Homo sapiens: one gene and its partners. The protein of the gene in region 1 interacts with the protein of each later gene in a pairwise test. Each region holds a gene or a part of one and is shown in the gene's direction. Other genes may lie near its edges.

The links.
Region 2: the proteins of TFRC (region 1) and CREB3L1 interact in binary tests that used the Homo sapiens proteins (3 or more experiments, as listed by UniProt).
Region 3: the proteins of TFRC (region 1) and SLC10A1 interact in binary tests that used the Homo sapiens proteins (3 or more experiments, as listed by UniProt).

Annotation. Positions count from the first base shown.
Region 1 is NC_000003.12:196,075,371-196,079,120, reverse strand, and holds part of TFRC (transferrin receptor protein 1), read left to right. Parts: intron 1-1,998; 5' UTR 1,999-2,021; coding exon 2,022-2,057; intron 2,058-3,750. UniProt on the Homo sapiens protein: Cellular uptake of iron occurs via receptor-mediated endocytosis of ligand-occupied transferrin receptor into specialized endosomes. Endosomal acidification leads to iron release.
Region 2 is NC_000011.10:46,308,606-46,312,355, forward strand, and holds part of CREB3L1 (cyclic AMP-responsive element-binding protein 3-like protein 1), read left to right. Parts: intron 1-1,383; coding exon 1,384-1,462; intron 1,463-2,426; coding exon 2,427-2,584; intron 2,585-3,719; coding exon 3,720-3,750.
Region 3 is NC_000014.9:69,783,592-69,787,341, reverse strand, and holds part of SLC10A1 (hepatic sodium/bile acid cotransporter), read left to right. Parts: intron 1-1,034; coding exon 1,035-1,245; intron 1,246-3,750. UniProt on the Homo sapiens protein: As a major transporter of conjugated bile salts from plasma into the hepatocyte, it plays a key role in the enterohepatic circulation of bile salts necessary for the solubilization and absorption of dietary fat and fat-soluble vitamins.

The DNA of each region.
Region 1 (3,750 bases):
CAAAAGATTGTGCTTCTGGCTGGGCGCAGTGGCTCACGCCTTCGATTTCCTTGGGATGTTCTTATCAAGTAACTAATCTTAGCACTTTGGGAGGCCAGGTGGGTGGATCACCCTAGGTCAGAAGTTCCAGACCAGCCTGGCCAACGTGGTAAAATCCCGTCTCTACTAAAAATACAAAAATTAGCTGGGCATGGTGGTGGGCACCTGTAATCCCAGCTACTCGGAGTCTGAGGTGGGAAAATGGCTTGAACCCGGGAGGGGGAGGTTGCAGTGAGCCGAGATCCTGCCATTGCACTCCAGCCTAGGCAACAAGACCGAAACTCTGTCTCAAGAAAAAAAAAAAGATTATGCTTCTAAGAATATGGTCTATTGCATATGGACACTGGTTTTTAAAGCTTGAATTTAAAAAGAATTTTTTGTAATAGGTTTTAGAGCTTTTTCTTTTTCTTTTTTATTATTTTTTTGAGATGGAGTTTCACTCCGTCACCCAGGCTGGAGTGCAGTGGTGCCATCTCGGCTCACTGCAACCTCCACCTCCCGGGTTCAAGCGATTCTCCTGCCTCAGCCTCCCCAGTAGCTGGGATTACAGGTGCCCACCACCACGCCCATCTAATTTTTGTATTTTTAGTAGAGATGGGGTTTCACCACCTTGGCCAGGCTGGTCTCAAACTCCTGACCTCGTGATCCACCTGCCTCGGCCTCCCAAAGTGTTGGGATTACAGGCATGAGCCACCGTGCCTGGCCAGAAAGCTTTTTCTTAATGCCAGTTATAATACCCTTTGCTTTACAATTTGCGTATACCTCACAGCTTGCTTTGTGCCGTGTGTGTTTAATATGCCCTAAGTGTACTCGTATATAGGAAAAGCTTTAAAATGGTATCCAATAAATGTCCATTTTGCAAATCTCAGGATAATGTCATTTTCAAGTATCTAGATGCCCTCAAACCAAATTAACTGGAAAATTCAGATTTCAGTTAAGGCCTTTAACTTAACTTAGGACTTTGATTACAGAGATGTATTTTGCTTTGACAAAAGTTAAGGTTAATGTCTTAAATTTCCAGAGATGATAACACAATTTCTATAACCCAGTAACCCATTTAACTTCGCTTAGATTATCAATTTTCAGCCTTGAACAGGCCACTTAGTTTCTCTAATAACTGGCCTCTTCATCTGTAAAACAGCGTAATCTGTGTTTCATGTTTCTTCTTGTGTCAAAGATCGAATCACTTGTAGGAACTATTCATTCAGTCAGGATCAGTATTTCTTCCCCTTCCCATTGGAGATGGTTTGTGGTATTTGTAGCATAACTGGTCTTGTCTGCCTTAGTCTTAATTTTGTCTTTTTGTATGTGTCACTTTCTTTTTTTTTTGAGACAGAGTTTTGCTCTTGTTTTCCAGGCTGGAGTGCAGTGGCGCGATCTTGGCTCACTGCAAGCTCCACCTCCTGGGTTCACGCCATTCTCCTGCCTCAGGCTCCCGAGTGGCTGGGATTACAGGCGCCCACCACCACGTCCGGCTAATTTTTGTATTTTTAGTAGAGACAGGGTTTCTCCATGTTGGCCAGGCTGGTCTTGAACTCCTGACCTCAGGTGATCCACCCATCTCAGCCTCCCAAAGTGCTAGGATTACAGGTGTGAGCCACCCCGCCCAGCAGTATGTGTCACTTTTGTCTACTCAGAACATAGTGGTTCGTACTTATAATTGCAGCACTTTGGGAGGCCAAGGTGGGAGGATTGTTTGAGGCCAGGAGTTCAAGACCAGCCTGGGCAACATAGGGTGACCTTGTCTCTACAAAAAGAAAAAAAAAGAATTATGTATATAACAAACTTTAAAAAGGATCCCACTTAATTTAGTTGTCATGTAAACTATGGTTAAATACCTTTTCTAGAAAAGTGATAATGTATTTTAAAAATTTAATGTATCATTTAGCCTGGTAATAGAAAGCTCACTAATCTGATACAGTAGTATCTTTCTCAATAATTCTCTATTCTGATACCTAGGTTCTTCTGTGTGGCAGTTCAGAATGATGGATCAAGCTAGATCAGCATTCTCTAACTTGGTAAGATATTTTCAGTTGTATTTCTGTGTCTGCAAGAATGTGAAATATACAAGCATGACTTTAACTGAGTAAGCATGAAATAATAACCCCAATCTATTATCAGGTATTCATTTACATTTGAATTGGTAGTCTTGAGGCATAACTGATCTCACAAAGAGTTCAGCCTTCAGTAGGGTTAATTATGGAAAGTCTTGGAAGAATTCTCAGAGTGGTTCTGGGTGTGGTAGACGGGGACAGCTTAGTAGATAAGACGAATTAAAGCCCTGATCAAAATGTTTTAGTAGGAGAAGTAAAAAGCAAAGGCTTGCGGGGCGCTGTGGCTCACGCCTGTAATCCCAGCACTTTGGGAGGCTGAGGTGGGTGGATCACCTGTGGTCAGGAGTTCAAGACCAGCCTGACCAACATGGTGAAACTCGGTCTCTACTAAAAATACAAAAAAAAAAAAAATTAGCTGAGTGTCATGGCGCATGCCTGTAGTCCCAGCTACTTGGGAGGCTGAGGCAGGAGAATTGCTTGAACCCGGGAGGCGGAGGTTGCAATGAGCTGAGATCACGCCATTGCACTCCAGCCTGGGCAACAGAGTGAGACTCCGTCTCAAAAAAAAAAAAAAAAGCAAAGGCTGAATGAGGCCAAGTGTGGTGGCTCACTCCCGCAATCCCAGCAGTTTGGGAGGTGAGGCAGGAGGATCACTTGAGGAGTTTGAGACTTGCCTGGGCAACATAGCAAGCCCATCTCTATTAAAAAAAAAATGAAATTTTAAGAAACATTGAGTAGACAGTATGAGTGAAAGCTGAAAGAACATACAAAAAAAACAGCCATCCAGGCCATGACGAGAAGGAGCCTAACTCTTAACACTCTGTCTAGACCTCAATTCTCTCTTATTTGTATTTATTTATTTATTTATTTTTATTTTATTTTTTGAGATGGAGTCTCAGCCTGGGCTCTGTTGCCCAGGTTGGAATGCAGTGTGCAATCTTAGCTCACTGTAACCTCCGCCTCCTGAGTTCAAGCGATTCTCCTGCCTCAGCCTCCTGGGTGGCTGAGATTACAGGCGTGCGACACCATGCCCAGCTAGTGGTTTTTTTTTTTTTGAATTTTTAGTGAGAGGGGATTTCACCATGTTGGTCAGGCTTGTCTCAAACTTCTGACCATAAATGATCTGTGTGCCTCGGCCCCCCCCAGAGTGCTGGGATTACAGGCATGAGCCACTGTGTCTGGTCTATTCTCTCTTTTCTGTCTTCTATCTTATGCTTAGTCAGAATTTCTGCTTATTTATAACTTTGTTTTATTCTTGCTCCCTTGCTCCCACCAACATCATGGTCTGGGTTACTGCATAGTATCCTGAACTGATTTGTGCCCCTAGTCCCAGCTACTCAGGAGGCTGAGGTGGGGGAATCAGTAGAGCCCAGGATTTTGAGGCTGCAGTGAGCTGTGATCACACCACTGTACTCCATCCTGGGAGAGAGAGGGAGACCTTGTCTCAAAAAAAAAAAAAAATTTACAAAAAGGGAGAGACTGACTGAGAAGACCAGTGTGAACTAGCCCTTGACTGGGCCCAGGGAAGAATGTTGGTTTGAAAGGAGAACACCCTAAGGAATATATAGCAAGTTATAGTAATGGCCCAATAACAAGCATATACCTAAACGAGCTTTTCCTAAACATTCCCGTGCCTGTTCTTCATCATGCCTTTTTC
Region 2 (3,750 bases), on another chromosome or scaffold:
GCACATCCTCCTTCTCTGTAAAAGGGGCTCATGAACCCCCTAAGGTGCTTCTAGCCCTGGGATTCCACAGGATGAGCAGCATCTTAAAATCCCTAGATGGGAGCGTGGCTGGCCCTGCCCCCTGCTGGCCACACGGCTCACTTGCTCTAACTGTACGTGGCTGAAGGCAAGAAAGGTCAGCCCCTCCCTGCCCCACCACAGACCCGTGGGATCAAGGGTCGGCGGCAAATATGCAGGATCTTTTGAGACCATCTCCAAGACTGGCTCTGAGACTCCTCAGGCCTTGCCAAAGCAGGAAGGGATGGAGTGACAGCAGCAGCAGCCAGGGAAGAGGAGACTTCAGAAAGGGAAACTGAGGCTCAAGGGGTTAAGTAATTTGCCCAAAATCATGCAGTTAGAAGCAACTGACATGCCTTCCAAATTCGGCCTGCCAGACCCTGAAGCCCACGCGAGTGAGGTCATAACCCCTAGTGGAAGGCACAGGAGCTGGCATTGTCAACAGTGAGCTCTCTGCACCGCAGTCCCCTCTCTGTCACTTGAGGGCTGAGCTGGGATGTAGACCAAGGAATCTCCAAGGTCCCTGCCAACTTGAACCTTCTGGGATTCTTACTCATCAGCCTACATTCTGGATTCTGCGTCCCACCCACAATATCATGATCTCTCTGGGGCTGCAGCCCAGGGCCTGCAATCCAGCCCCCAACAACGCCTTCCTCAGACAGAGCACCACTTACTTGCATGTTGGTAGTCATGTGTACAAAGCCATGCATGCTCTTGAAGTCCTTTCTGGAACAACAAGTCAGAATAGAAATAAAGAGAAATGCATGTTTGTTAAAAATGTCCATCTGATTCTATCAAGCCCTTACTTCAACCCATTAGGAGCTCTCATTGCCTCCAACTTCTTTGTCTAGATTCTACTTCTATTTATACCCCGGGACTCATTTCAGACTTTGACTTCTCAGGGAGCATCCTCGGAGCCCCCAGCCAATTAATGCCTCCTTCTGTACTACTGCTACCAGCCATTGAACAGCTACACTGTTCCAGACATTACCTCTTGTTTTATTCTCATGGCAACCCACATACCAAAGCCTGTGTGGCCTTCACAGTTGGTGTGGAAGGTGGCCCCACACTCAGAGGCTCACCTTCTCTGAGCTTAAGGTCTGAGCTACACTGCTTGGCCAGCAATCCTTTCTCTTAGGTGTGACTTGGCTTCTTTAAGCTCAAGAGCTTGCCTCTGTTCCCTTGCAGCTGTGCCCAGAACTCCAAGCCCAGCCACTTCCCCAACTGTGCAGGGCAGGCAACCAGCTTTAGGGAGGAGGTGGGTAGATGGCATGGTGGGGACAGACCCAGGGGCAGCTAATGGAGCTGGGCTTGTCTGTTCCTCAGGCCCCGGGAGAGATGACTCAGCTGCCAGTGATCAAAGCAGAGCCTCTGGAGGTGAACCAGTTCCTCAAAGTGACACCGGGTAGGTGTGTCCAGGGGAAGGGCTCTTTTCCCCTCCAGTCATAGGCAGATAGCATCCCCACTTCCTTGGTTCAGCCCATCCCTATCTCTTGACAACCTTCCCCCACCCAGAATATCCTCTCCACCCTGCCCTACCCACTGTCCCTCCATCCATGCCCACTCTTCGTCTAGTCCTCTTCGTTTTTGTTTTTTGTTTGTTTGTTTGTTTGTTTGTTTTTTGAGATGGAGTCTCACTCTGTCACCCAGGCTGGAGTACCATGGCACGATCTCAGCTCACTGCAACCTCCCCATCCCAGGTTCAAGCAATTCTCCTGTCTCAGCCTCCTAAGTACCTGGGATTACAGGTGCCCACCACCACGCCTGGCTAATTTTTGTATTTTTTAGTAGAGACGGGGTTTGGCCATATTGGTCAGGCTGGTCTTGAACTCCTGACTCAGGGGATCCACCTGTCTCAGCCTCCCAAAGTGCTGTGATTACAGGGGTGAGCCACTGCACCCAGCCTTCGTCCAGTCCTCTTCTTGCCCAATCTACTGCTGCCATCGCTCCTGCTTGCCCAGCCTGACCCTATGAGAGAGAGGCCCCAGTCACCTTCTGGGGTTGCTGAGCTAGAGCTTAGTGATCTTCTGGAGTTGCTGAGCTTAAGGCCCTGAACCCTGTGAAGTCAGAGGTCACAGAGGACCTCCCACGAATTCAGCTCCTATGATGTCTATGCCAAGGGCGAGCTTGTAAAGGAGCTGGGCCTCTGTGGTGTCAGATGAGGCAGCACCCAGGAATTGGCTACCCAGATGTCAACTGTCTTTCTGACCCTGCAGAGGGGCTTCTGATGTCATAGCTGAGACCAAGCGCCTGGCAGTCCGTGTCCCACAATGTCAGGGCTGGTGCAAGCTCATGCTCAGCTGAACTCATGATGTCCAAGTGGAGCTGATGTGCAACGTTGCTAACTCGGTTTCCCCTGCTCTCCCCAGAGGACCTGGTGCAGATGCCTCCGACGCCCCCCAGCAGCCATGGCAGTGACAGCGACGGCTCCCAGAGTCCCCGCTCTCTGCCCCCCTCCAGCCCTGTCAGGCCCATGGCGCGCTCCTCCACGGCCATCTCCACCTCCCCACTCCTCACTGCCCCTCACGTAAGGAGCTGGGGGTGGGCTGATCCCAGAAATGAGGAATTGAATACATCCACCTGAGCACACTGGCCAGTCAGGAGGGTTTGGGGAGCCCCGAGACTGATCCCCACCCTCATCAGAATTCAGAGGGATGCTTACCTGGCAGATGGGAGTTCTAATCCTTTTATTTTTGAGTCTTGCTCTGTTGCCCAGGCTGGAGTGCAGTGGCTCAATCTCGGCTCACTGAAACATCTGCCTCCCAGGTTCAAGCAATTCTCCTGTCTCAGCCTCCCAAGTAGCTGGAATTACAGGCACTTGCCACCGTGTCTGGCTTTTTTTTGTTTGTTTTTTTTTTTTGAGATGGAGTCTCGCTCTGTCGCCTGGAGTGCAGTGGCACGATCTCGGCTCACTGCAACCTCCACCTCCAGGGTTCAAGTGATTCTCCTGCCTCAGCCTCCCGAGTAGCTGGTATTACAGGTGCACACCACCACCCAGCTAATTTATGTACTTTTAGTAGAGACAGCATTTCACCATGTTGGCCAAGCTGGTCTCAATCTCTTGACCTCTTGATCTGCCCACTTCAGCCTCCCAAAGGGCTGGGATTACAGGCGTGAGCCACCGCATCTGGTCAGGAATTCAAATCCTTTCGCCCTGCCTCATGGTGAACAGGAGACTATTGCAGAGCCAGGACTAGAACTTGACATTCCTGACCTCCAGGGGATGACCCAGGCTGCCTCCAAGGAGCGCTGTGTGAGGGGAAGTGCCCAGATGGTCCAGAATCCCCAGGAAACATGGAGCTAGGCCCTGAGCCCTGGGATGGGTGTGGAGTCTCCCAAGCCAAGATTGTAGGGAGGGGTCTGAGGGAGATGCTGTTTGGGGCACCCTGGACAAGTAAGCTTTGAGGGTGCAGTCTCAGGGATGGGATCCAGGAAGCCCTCCCGAACAATGCACTAAGAGCCTAACACCTGAGCTCTCAGCATGGCCCTGGCACCTGACACATGTTACTGAATTTCACCCAGATCCACTCCCTTTCCAGATGAGGAAACTGAGGCATAGAGCATTGTGTGCCTTGCCCAGGTCATATAGATAGCACATGGCAGAGCTTGAATTTGAACCCAGGGCTGCCTGGCTCCTAACTACCACATCATACTTCCTACAGAAATTACAGGGGACATCAGGGCCACTGCTCC
Region 3 (3,750 bases), on another chromosome or scaffold:
CTTCCTTCTCAGTTGACCTTTCTGGAGGGCCTCTCCCTAGACAGGGTCCTGGGACTAACATATATAAGATTCCAAATGGAAAAGGAAATTGGACAAGTAGGATACATATTAGAGCTGGAAGGACATATTATTCAGGCTCTGAGTGTCATAATTTATTTTAAATAATATCAAGAGGAACCAGAAAGTAAAGAACATGAGAACACCAGAGTTGGGGACTGGAATACTATCCAAGATGCAAAGCAAATCTGACCAGGTTATCTTGTCACTTACTCAACATGGGTATCTATTACTGCCTTCTCTACTACCCCACCATTATGGCCCTTCAATTATTCTGTTTCTTACTGCTTCACTATTTCTTTTACAGTCCTTTTAATCATGGTATCTGTTTATTGATTTTTCTAGTAGGGTTTTTGACTTCTGCCTGAGCATCACTCCCATGCCACCCATCCCCAAAGACCAAGTGTCCTGTCACTGTGTCTCACACTCAGACTCCCCACGAGGTAAAATGTGCTGATATAGCTAATTGTTATTGTCTCCGTTGGACAAAGTCACTACAAGAAGCCATTCCCTAGGCTCTAAACCAGACATTTAGTAACTGTGGGTCAGGTGCCATTCCATGGTCCAATGGGCTAATGACCAGAGTAATGGAATCACACAGTTGGCTTTCTACAAAATGGGCTTGGCATGGGGGAGGTGCTCAATGCGAAAAGGGTTCCATTACAGAGAAGGAGATCAGAATGGCTCCTTCCACAATGAAGCACACAGGGATTGAAGCAGTTGAACCACCCTAAGTTCAAATGCTGCCTTGGCCACTTACTACCTTGTGCGACTTTGAGCAGGACACAACTCTTCTAGTCCCCAGCTTCCTTGTCAGCGAAAAGAAGATAGTATGCTTACTGCCTAATGTTATGGGGAAAAGGAACTGAAGCCACATATGTCAAGCACTTAGCACAGTGGCACTTAGCAGGCACTCAACAAAATAGTCTGTATTTATGGGCTCTCTCTCTCTCCCCTCTTCCCATGTCTCCCACCAGCATTGTGATGACCACCTGCTCCACCTTCTGTGCCCTTGGCATGATGCCTCTCCTCCTGTACATCTACTCCAGGGGGATCTATGATGGGGACCTGAAGGACAAGGTGCCCTATAAAGGCATCGTGATATCACTGGTCCTGGTTCTCATTCCTTGCACCATAGGGATCGTCCTCAAATCCAAACGGCCACAATACATGCGCTATGTCATCAAGGTAAGAACCTGGGAGGCTTGACAAATTAGGGCAAAAGAGTAAAAACACCATATACAACTATAAGATATAATCATTATATTAATAATAAACATACATATGCTCCTACTAGATGCTAAGTTTTATGCTATGCACTCTAAGGATTCACTGTCACCAGAGTTTGATATTTGCAGAAAGTGAAGTAACACATGAGGCTGGCGTGGTGGCTCACGCTTATAATCCCAACACTTTGGGAAGTTGAGGCGGGTGGATCACTTGAGGTCAGAAGTTTGAGACCAGCCTGACCAACATGACGAAACCCCGTCTCCATTAAAAATACAAAAAAAAAAAAAAAATTAGCCGGGCATGGTAGCGAGTGCCTGCAATCCCAGCTACTCAGGAGGCTGAGGCAGCAGAATCGCTTGAACCAGGGAGGGCAGGGGTTGCAGTGAGCCGAGATCGCGCCACTGCACTCCCGCCTGGGCCACAGAGCAAGACTCCATCTCTAAAACGAAAAAAAAAAAAAAAAGAAAAGAAAGAAAATGAAGTAACACACGAGAGAAACAAGATCCAATTCCAGTGTACACGCAAGTATTTGCAGAAGGCAAGGAGATGGGAACAGTGAGGGCTGGAGTGGTCAAAGAGCCTTATTAAAAAGGAAGGGCTTGAGGCATTTAGGTAAACCTGGGGAGAAGCCTGAATAGAGTTCAGCAGGCACTAAGGGCAAATTTGGCTGATGTGGCAAGAAGCTAGAGGAGACAGGTAGTGTACCCATTCCCAGCATTTCAAGAGAGGGATGGGGTGGGAAGTGGAGTGAATTAAGGCCACAAAGGTTTTGAGAAGCACTGTGGTCACAGACAGGGCATCATGCCACTGCTTTGTGTGCAGAACTCCTAGAGTGCAGCTATGGTCTCTCCACCAATATTTTCAACCTTGGAGTTTGGTCCCTGCCAGCCTCCCCCTTGGCTCACTATTCATCCCCCAGGGCCAGGAGGTCATCCTGGTCCTCAGGAAGGACTTGACCTCCTGACCTCCTGTACCATCTCTGCCCCTGGATCAATGCCTCTGGCCTGGTCTGCAAGGCGTGCTGCTGAGAACCCCAAAGTTTGGCAGCAGCTTTGGGCCTGGAACAAAGAAGTCAAGAGTCCAGTTTTCAGGGGGGTTTTATTTTCACACTACCATTGTCTCAAGAGTAGTTTTTGCCCTTGTCCTGTCCCAGTGCCATGGCCACAGCTCCCCTTCCCGCCTGCTGGAGGACATGGAGGAATCATCCCTCCTCCTTTCTGTGGCCAGTCACCCCACCTCAGCCCTGGATTGCAATCATTCTCTCTACCCTTGTACTCAAGAGACCTCCTTTTATTGATTATGCCCCTGGCCCAGCAGCCTCCCCTCTCTCTCATTTCTAAAATATCTCTGTATTGGTTCTTCACAATCAGCTTTGATACGAACTCACATATCTTCTATCTTCAAAAAACAAAACAAAAAGTGTCTCTCACTGGGATTTTTTGTGGAATCCACCTCCCATTCCACCTAATATCTCCCTTTGCTCTCCTTCCTAGCCAGGTTTTAGGAGTAGTCCCCCTCACTCCTCTCTCTCTCTGTCAATCGCTTCCTCTCAAACACCTTCCATTTCCCCCATGCCACCGCCAGAGCTCTCTCATGAGTGACCAGGCCCTCAGCAATTCGTTTCCATTATTTGAATCCCTCTCTTCTCTCCTTGGTCTCCCATCCACCCAGCATCTTGATGACCACCTGCTCCACTTTCTTTGCCAAATCCAATGGACATTTCTCAATCCTTCCTTGACCTTCTAGCAGCATTGGACATAATTGACCACTGCCTCCTCAAAAGCCTTCTCTGTCAGCTTTAGTGACTCTAAGCTCTGCTGCTTTCCTCCTACCTCTCATGACCTTCAGACTCCCTTATGAGTTCCTCTGGTCAAAGGCACTTCTCTGCATTCAGACCAAGCTTTCTGCCTTTCTCACCAGACCTCTCCCAGCACAGGATCTGGTCCCTCTCAGGTCTGCAATTACCATCTGCAAACCGAGACTTCCAGAACAGCATCATCAGATGTCAACTCTATCCTCACTCCAGAATCCATTTATTATCTACCAGGTCTTTCTATCTGAATATACCTCAGACATTTAAAACTCAATATATGTTAAAGTCATCTCCTCCCCATGTGGTTATCTCAGTCGGTGGCACTGTGTGTGTGCCCAGTTGCCCCAACCAGAAACTGGAAGTCATTCTCAATGTTCCCTTCTCCCTCACCACTCACACCCATCTAATCAATGACTGTCGATTCCACCTTCTGTTGCTGGAATCCATTCATTCCTCTCTATCCTTACCTCTCACTAGACAACTCAAATGGCCTTCTCATCCAACCTCCTCACCCAGTTCTAACCTGAGGGTGAAGATGTGAAGTACAAACTCTATCATGTCACTCCACTGCTTAAAGCCTCTCATTGACTCCTTCCCCCTAGGATAGTTTAAACTCCTTAATGTGGCACTTCTTGATTTGGTTTCAACTG